2 linked regions of the Homo sapiens genome follow. The protein of the gene in region 1 interacts with the protein of each later gene in a pairwise test. Each region holds a gene or a part of one and is shown on either strand. Other genes may lie near its edges.

Evidence for each region.
Region 2: the proteins of SGSM1 (region 1) and GIPC1 interact in binary tests that used the Homo sapiens proteins (3 or more experiments, as listed by UniProt).

The regions. Positions count from the first base shown.
Region 1 is NC_000022.11:24,812,657-24,816,466, forward strand, and holds part of SGSM1 (small G protein signaling modulator 1), read left to right. Parts: intron 1-3,810. UniProt on the Homo sapiens protein: Interacts with numerous Rab family members, functioning as Rab effector for some, and as GTPase activator for others. Promotes GTP hydrolysis by RAB34 and RAB36.
Region 2 is NC_000019.10:14,479,106-14,482,915, forward strand, and holds part of GIPC1 (PDZ domain-containing protein GIPC1), read right to left. Parts: coding exon 3,584-3,810; intron 1,674-3,583; coding exon 1,488-1,673; intron 1,381-1,487; coding exon 1,200-1,380; intron 420-1,199; coding exon 307-419; intron 1-306. UniProt on the Homo sapiens protein: May be involved in G protein-linked signaling.

The sequences.
Region 1 (3,810 bases):
GATTTATGAGCAAGGGAGGGTTTTGCTTAGGGCTGTACTTCAGGAAGTTTCAGCTAATAGCAGGGACCAGGATAGACAGTTTCTGCCAACTCTTAGAAGAAAACTTTCTCCCTCCCTCTGTTATTTTCTTTCTCCCCCACTTCCGTTCTTCCTTCCTTCCTCCCACAAATATTTATCAAGCATCTACTATGTGCCAGGCCCTGTTCTACAAGCTGCAAACTGAGAAGTGAGTAAAGCAATGTCTTTGCTCATATGCCCTCATTCAGTGTACAGTATAGTGGCAGGAGGGCATATAGAGAAAACAAGAAATATGTATTAAAGGTAACAAGAGCTCCAAGGAAAATAACGGCTGGAAGAGATGGGAAAGGCTTGCCAGAGGAGGTGGTCAGGGATGGCCTCACTGATGGGATGGTGTTTGAGCAGAGACCTGAAGGAAGGAAGGGAGCAGTGTCAACATCTACAGGAAGTGTGTGCCTGGCAGAGGGAATAGCGTATGCAGAGGCTGTGAGTTGGGAACAGACCAGCTGGGAGGCCAGTGAGGCTGGAGTGAAGTAAACAAGAGTAGAGATGAGGTTTGAGAGAGTGGGAGGCTGATTGTTCAAGACCTTGTCCATCGAAGGCATCGAAGGCTTTGGCTTTGACTCTGGTGAGATAGGAGCCATGGGAGTATTCTGAGCAGGGGAGGAACAGGCAAGTTTTGGGGACAAGTTGAGAGGAAGCAAAGACACCAGATCATCAGATAAGACAGGAAACGTCTGCCTTTGCTAAGCTTTTCCATTCTTGGGCTGGAATCACAGCCCCCCACCCACTACTCGCCCCACTGTGCCAAGGAGAGACTCCAAAAATGCATGTGCTTGAATGAATGCAGGAATGCCAGGTGGGCTATTTTGGGGCTCTCCGATGCTGGCAGGATTGACTCAAATCAGCTTGCGTGTGTCGTGTTTGCTGGCTTAAGAGGGCAGAAACGCTCCTCATGAATAATGCAGCCATATCCACCCGATGCGTTTTGATGCTTTTTCAGGTCTCTGGCAACCTGGCTTCTGGGAGCTTTTGCTAGTGATGAGCATCTGTGGCAGCTTAGGCACCCTGGTTCGATGTGGTGAGGATGGCAGGAGGGCCCCTGGCTTGCCTGGCTGTGTCTCTTGTACCATATGGCTGGGTCTCCCCCAGCCACCTCATGAGGTGCTCCAGGAGCTGGTGGTAGCATTTGTTGCTGGCTGGCCGGTAGGAAAGGGCATTTTGGTCACCCCTAAGGGCCCGCAGTTGCTGTCTGCAGAGCCCAGGATGGGAGGTGAGGAGACCTGTGTCCTTGTTCCAGTTCTGACCCCAACAATGCTTGTGGCTCCTAACAGGTCCCTTCTCAAGGTCTCACTTTCCTGCTTTCTAAGTGGACGAGGTTGGACAGCTCCAGGATTCCAAGAACCTCAACTCATCTAATTTGGCCAGTGTCACTCTCTGAGAGCCAAGTCTTTGTTTTTTCCACTCTGAATTTGCCAAGTATTTATTCAAGACTAATTAAAACTAAGTAGCTGGTAAGACTTTTGGAGTGCCTTCAGTTCACTCAAGGAAAACCAGGGCTTAACTAATGTCATTCTAATGGGATAAAGATTAAAAAAACAAAACAAAACAAAACAAAACAAAAACTAGCATATACTGGCATTTTATATTGATGACCTCATTTAATTATTGATCCCCCATGAAGTAGATAAAATCCCCTCTTTTATGGATAAGGAAATCGAGGCACAGAGATGGCAAGGAGTTCGCCCTAAGGTCTCAGAGATTGTTGTTGGTACAGCAAGGGGTCTGGCTGCACAATCCTCCTCTGTATCACTCTTGAGCTAAAGCCAGCAATCCACACAGGGTTCCAAGCTCCACCGAGAGTGTGGGGTCAGGGAGAAGGCCACAACAGCAAGGGCCTCAATTACCACTATGCTATCACTGTCAGGCAGTTGGCAGTATTTATGGAGGGGTCAGGCACACCGCGTGGCTCACCCTTTTGGGAGTAAGATGGACTCAGTCCCAAAAGGACACTTTGCCGCCCTTTCTGGTCACATCTGAACTTAAAAGATGCCCTCAGCACAGGATCTTGCTGTCTCTAGGTAAGCCCTGACCTGGAGGTGCTACAGCCCCCAGGGCAGTGCTGTGGAATTTAGTCAGAAGAGATATTTCTTGAGGTCCAAAGGGACAAGCCCTCTAATGGGCTGAGTCTTGGCTGGCTGCATCGCCATCATGGGGAGGGCAGCTGGGTCTTCCCTCTGAGGCTGGCTGCCCATCAGCTCCTGGAGACAGTCCCTCAGCCTAAGGAGCTCAGAGTCCCTGGTGACTTTCCTGGCCCTGCACTTGGTTGCTGTGCACCCCTGGACAAGGGGGCTAAGAATGCTAAACTCAGATGTGGGGCAGTGTATTTTTCTTTCACTTAGTGATATAGAAGATGAGATGAATAGATTTCTATGTTTTTTCTTTGCACAATTTTGCAGGAACTCAGATTGTGGGTATTTGCAAAGAACAGTAACAGTTCCTTTTGCAGTAAGGCCTCATTGAGAAAATGGATAGCTGAGGTCCTGAGAGTTCAAGAGACTTGGTGATGTTACCAAAATGCTGGGGTGTTGGTGTGGGTCCTGCTGCTGGCCACACAGAAGGCCAATCACTGAGATAAGTATTGCCCGGGAAGAAGTCTTTAGTTGAGTCCCGCAGCCGAAGAGATGGGAGATCAGGCTCACATCTATCTTCCTGACCAACTAAACTCAGAGGTTTATATAGCAGGAAGAAAATTTAAGTGCATGGAAGAAAACTGGAATTAGAGGGGCTGGGTGCAGTGGCTCACGCCTGTGATTCCAGCACTTTGGGAGGCCGAGGCAGGCGGATCACGAGTTCAGGAGATCAGGACCATCCTGGATAACATGGTGAAACCCTGTCTCTACTAAAAAAATACAAAAAAATTAGCCGGGCGTGGTGGCGGGCGCCTGTAGTCCCAGCTACTCAGGAGGCTGAGGTAGGAGAATGGCGTGAACCTGGGAAGCAGAGCTTGGCAGTGAGACGAGATGGCGCCACTGGAGGGCGAAAGAGTGAGACTGTGTCTCAAAAAACAAACAAACTGGAATTAGAGAGGGGTAAGGAAAAGGAGTTGGTCAGCAGGAAGCAGGTGGTGGGTTATGCAGTCATGCTGGGTAAGGGGTGTTGCATCTCTGTCCAGATGCAATGATCTGGTAAGTTTCAGTTCCTTGGGGGAGGCCTGATGTTTGGTTTCCTGAGAAAGGAACTCAGATAAGACAAATGTAACTTTCTGGAGTTTTAAAACTGGGAGGGTCAGTTTCTATGTATATTCAAAAGAAACCATAAACATTAGTTCTATGGGATAGTTGGGCCAGTTTCAGTGATACTTGGGGCATTGAATGAATTCCTTTTTAATTATTATTATTTGGTAAATTATGCTTACTTGGTAAATTAGAATTGTAGCAACTACCATTTACCAAATATTGCTGTAAGTGCTTTGCTGTCTCATTTAATCCACAAAACAACCTTCCTACACAGTAGGTACGAGTAGCAACTGCTTTTTACTGACAAGGAAATTCATGCTCAGAGAGGCTAAGAAACTGAACCAGGACTACAGAGCTGAGAAACAGCAGAGCAGGGTTTGTTAGCCAGCTCCATCCTCCATCCTTTTCAAGTCGGATAAACCCTGATAAAACTAGGTAGAATGATAATAAACATAAACAAAATGAGAAAGTGAAGCTAAAAAATTGATTTCTTTTTTTTCTTTCTTTTTTTTTTTTTTTTGAGATGGTGTCTCGCTCTGTTGCCTAGGCTGGA
Region 2 (3,810 bases), on another chromosome or scaffold:
AGGCCAAGGAGGCTGGATCACCTGATGTCAGGAGTTCGAGACCAACTCCTGGCCTGGCCAACATGGTGAAACCCCATCTCTACTAAAAATACAAAAATCAGCTGGGCATGGTGGTGGGCACCTGTAATCCCAGCTACTTGGGAGGCTGAGGCAGGAGTATCGCTTGAACCTGGGAGGCAGAGGTTGCAGTGAGCCGAGATTGCACCACTGCACTCCAGCCTGGGTGACAAGAGTGAGACTCTGTCTCAAAAAAAAAAAAAAGAAAGGGAAGGGATGCCGGAGATAGGGTCCGGCTGGAGCACTCACCAGATCCTCCACCGTGGCGGGGCCCCGGGATCGGAGCCGCAGGGTCCCTCGGCCAGTGCCCAGTTGTGGGCCAGAGCCAGGGCGGCCACCCGCTGAACGCTGGCTGATCATGTCTGTGGGAGGCAGGAGAGGAGTGAGTGTGGGGGAAGCTTGGTTTTAGCACGTTCTGGGCAGGAACTTGTCCTTCCTGGCTTTCACCACCACCCCAAACTTCTCCAGGCTTCTGCAAGTTTCTGGGGGCTGGGGCCGGGGTGATCCCAGGAGGGCAGGAATCCTGACTCAGGCCTGGCATGGATGTGGGGCAGAGCAGGGGGAACAGCTGGGGGCCAGGAATAGGAAATGCTGGAGGGGAGACTGGAGGGGCCACTTCTGCTCCCAGGGGCTGGGGGACAGGAAGCAGGTGTACCCCAGCCTGAGTCTCCAGCTGCCTGAGTCCGTCTCCTCTTGGCCAAGGGGGTATGGCTGCTGGGCCACAGACCAGCCCTACCTGCCCAGGGAAGTGATTTAGTCCCCCACCCCCACCTCAGGGGCCTGGGGCCCATTCCTGAGAGTTAGTGAAGCCAGATGGAAAAGTGGGGGGGCTGGCACTGAGCAGTCAAGCCTGGCCTGTTGGGGATAGGGGGCTGGCCAGGGCTGAGGGCGCTTGGCTGGGCTAATGGCCCCTGGAAGCTAGGTGTGAGGGCAACTTCCTCCTCGCCCCCGCCCTTCTCCCAGGCTGGGCCAAGGGCCAGCACCCCGTCTGGGGTCGGGAGGAGCTGCAACCCCTTCCCTTTCTGCAACCCCTTCCCTTTCGGCAGGCCAGGCTTGGGCGCCACCTGCTGGCCGCTCCCGGCACCACCGCCTGCGCCCATGCGAGCAGCGCCACTGGGGAGGTCCAGGGGGCGGCTCCTCACCGAAGGCCTTGCGAGGCTCCGTGAGCTTCAGCGTGAAGGTACGGCCTCGGGGCAGCTCCTTGAGCAGCCGGGCCACCTCGTAGTGCCGGCAGCCCAGCAGGCTCTGCCCGTTAATGGCCTCGATCATGTCGCCCACGCTGATGAGGTGGATGTGGTCGATCACGCTGCCCTCCTTGATGCGCTGCGGGGGCGGGGAGTCATCAGCCCTTGGGGCTCTGCCCTGGTTTCCGGGGTCCCATGGCCCACCCTCACTCCCAGGCCTCCGGGGTGCCCCGTCTCCCCAGGCACCTTGATGAAGGCGTAGCCAGCCCCGTTGTCCGTGATGGTGAGCCCGAGTGCATCCTCCGACTTGAACACCTCCACCTCCTTGCGCTGCCCCTTCACGTGGGCGAAGATGAAGTCCTCCAGCCCGATCTGGCCCCCCAGGAGCTTGTCCATGTCCACTTTGTGGGTGTTCAGGGTGCAGAACATCACCTGCAGGGGTGGGAGACGCTGAAACCTCTTCCCCCTCCCTCCCCCTTTTCTAATCACCACTGGAGGGCGAAGGGAGAGAGCTGGGAGAGGACTAGGGGGATTCCATCCCAGTAACTCATCACCCACTGAGCCTGAGCCAGGGCCACAGCAGGGCCCACATTAGCGTGTCAGCTCTGCTAGGACTAGGATTTAGTTTTCCTTTCTCTTTTTGAGACAGGGTCTTGCTCTGTCACCCAGGCTGGAGTGCAGTGGTGCCATCATAGTCACTGCAGCCACAACCTCCCAGATTCCGGCAATCCTCCCACCTCAGCCTCCCAAGTAGCTGGAACTACAGGTGCTCGCCACCATGCCTGGCTAATTTTTGTATTTTTTGTGGAGATATGGGGTCTCACTATGTTGCACAGGCTGGTCTCCAACTCCTGGGCTCAAGTGATCCTCCTGTCTCAGTCTCCCGAGTAGCTGGGACCACAGACACGTGCCACCACACCCACATAGTTAAAATAATTTTTTTTAGAGATGGGAGCCTCATTATGTTGCCCAGGCTGGCCTGGAACTCCTGAGCTCCAGTGATCCCCCCATCTCAACCTCCCAAGTAGCTGGGACTATAGGTGTGCACCACTGTACCCAGCTAGGATTTCGGTCCTAGCAAAAATTCATTGCTGTGCCAGGTGCGGTGGCTCACGCCTGTAATCCCAGCACTTTGGGAGGCCGAGGTGGGCAGAACACGAGGTCAGGAGATCGAGACCAACCTGGCCAACATGGTGAAATCCTGTCTCTACTAAAAATACAAAAATTAGCTGGGTCTGGTGGCGGGCGCCTGTAATCCCAGCTACTCGGGAGGCTGAGGCAGGAAAATGGTTTGAACCCAGGAGGTGGAGGTTGCAGAGAGCCAAGATCGTGCCACTGCACTCCAGCCTGGTGACAGAGCAAGACTCCATCTCAAAAAAAAAAAAAAAAAAAAAAAAAAAATTCATTGCTGCTTTCAGGGAACGGAGCCTGGCACACAGTGAGTGCTCAGGAAATGCTTGTGGAGGACACAGAAACTCATCCCACTTAGGGAGACCCCTGCGTCTACTTCTTGCTCAAACCCACTATTGCCCTCCTTGACCCCCTCCCATCTATCCCCACAGTGCTTGGCACCAGGCAAGCCTGCCTCCCACAGCGTTGAGTTTCTCCAAGGCATCACGGAGAAGTGCATCTCGTATCTGGCCTCTAGCCTCCACCATCTCATGGGGCACTGGCCTCCCAATGCCTGACAGGAACTCAGCATCCAGCCCTGGCCATCAGCTCCCACAGTCTGTAGAGGTGCAGGCCTCTCAGTGTCTGATGGGAACTCAGCATTTAACTGTGGCCATCAGCTCCCCACAATCTACTGGGGTGCAGGCCTCCCAACGCCTGATGGGAACTCAGCGTCCAGCCCTGGTCGTCAGTTTTGCACAATCGACTGGGATGCAGGCCTCTCAATCCATCCATCCAATCAATCCATCCAGCCCTGGCCTCCCACAGTCCATTGGAGCTCAGGTCTCTCAGTGCCTGTTGGGAACTCAGCATCCACCCCTAGTCTTGCACAATCTACTGGGGGTACACCCCTCCTAATGCCTGATGGGATGTCAGCATGCAGCCCTGGCCATCAGCTCCCACAATCCACTGGGGCACAGGTCTCCCAGTGCCTGATGGGAACTCAGCATCCAGCCCTGGCCTCCAGTTCCCCACAATTCACAGGGGCACAAGCCTCCCAGTGCCTCATGGGGACTCAGCATCCAGCCCAGGCCATTGGCCCCCACCACTGAGTGGGGCCCAGGCTCAGCATCTGCAGCTTCAGCATCTGAGCCCCAGCTCATGAACAGGATGCAGGCCCAGACCTCTGGTCCACCATCAGGGACCCTGGTGCCCGGCTCCCCAGTGGATACCTCGGCAGTTGGCAGGCGGAAGGCCTCGGCGATCTTGCCATACAGCTCCTTGACGTTGGTGAAGCCCTCGATGCGGCCAGTGGGACTGCCATGGGCCAGCTGGGTGTGGAACACGAGGCGGGGCCGCAGGGCTGGGGGAGGGGGGGGCAAGCCCATTTGGGGGCCCCCCGACCCACCTCCGCCCAGAGGCCCTGGCTCCCCCACGCCCAGCCCTCCACGGCCTGGCT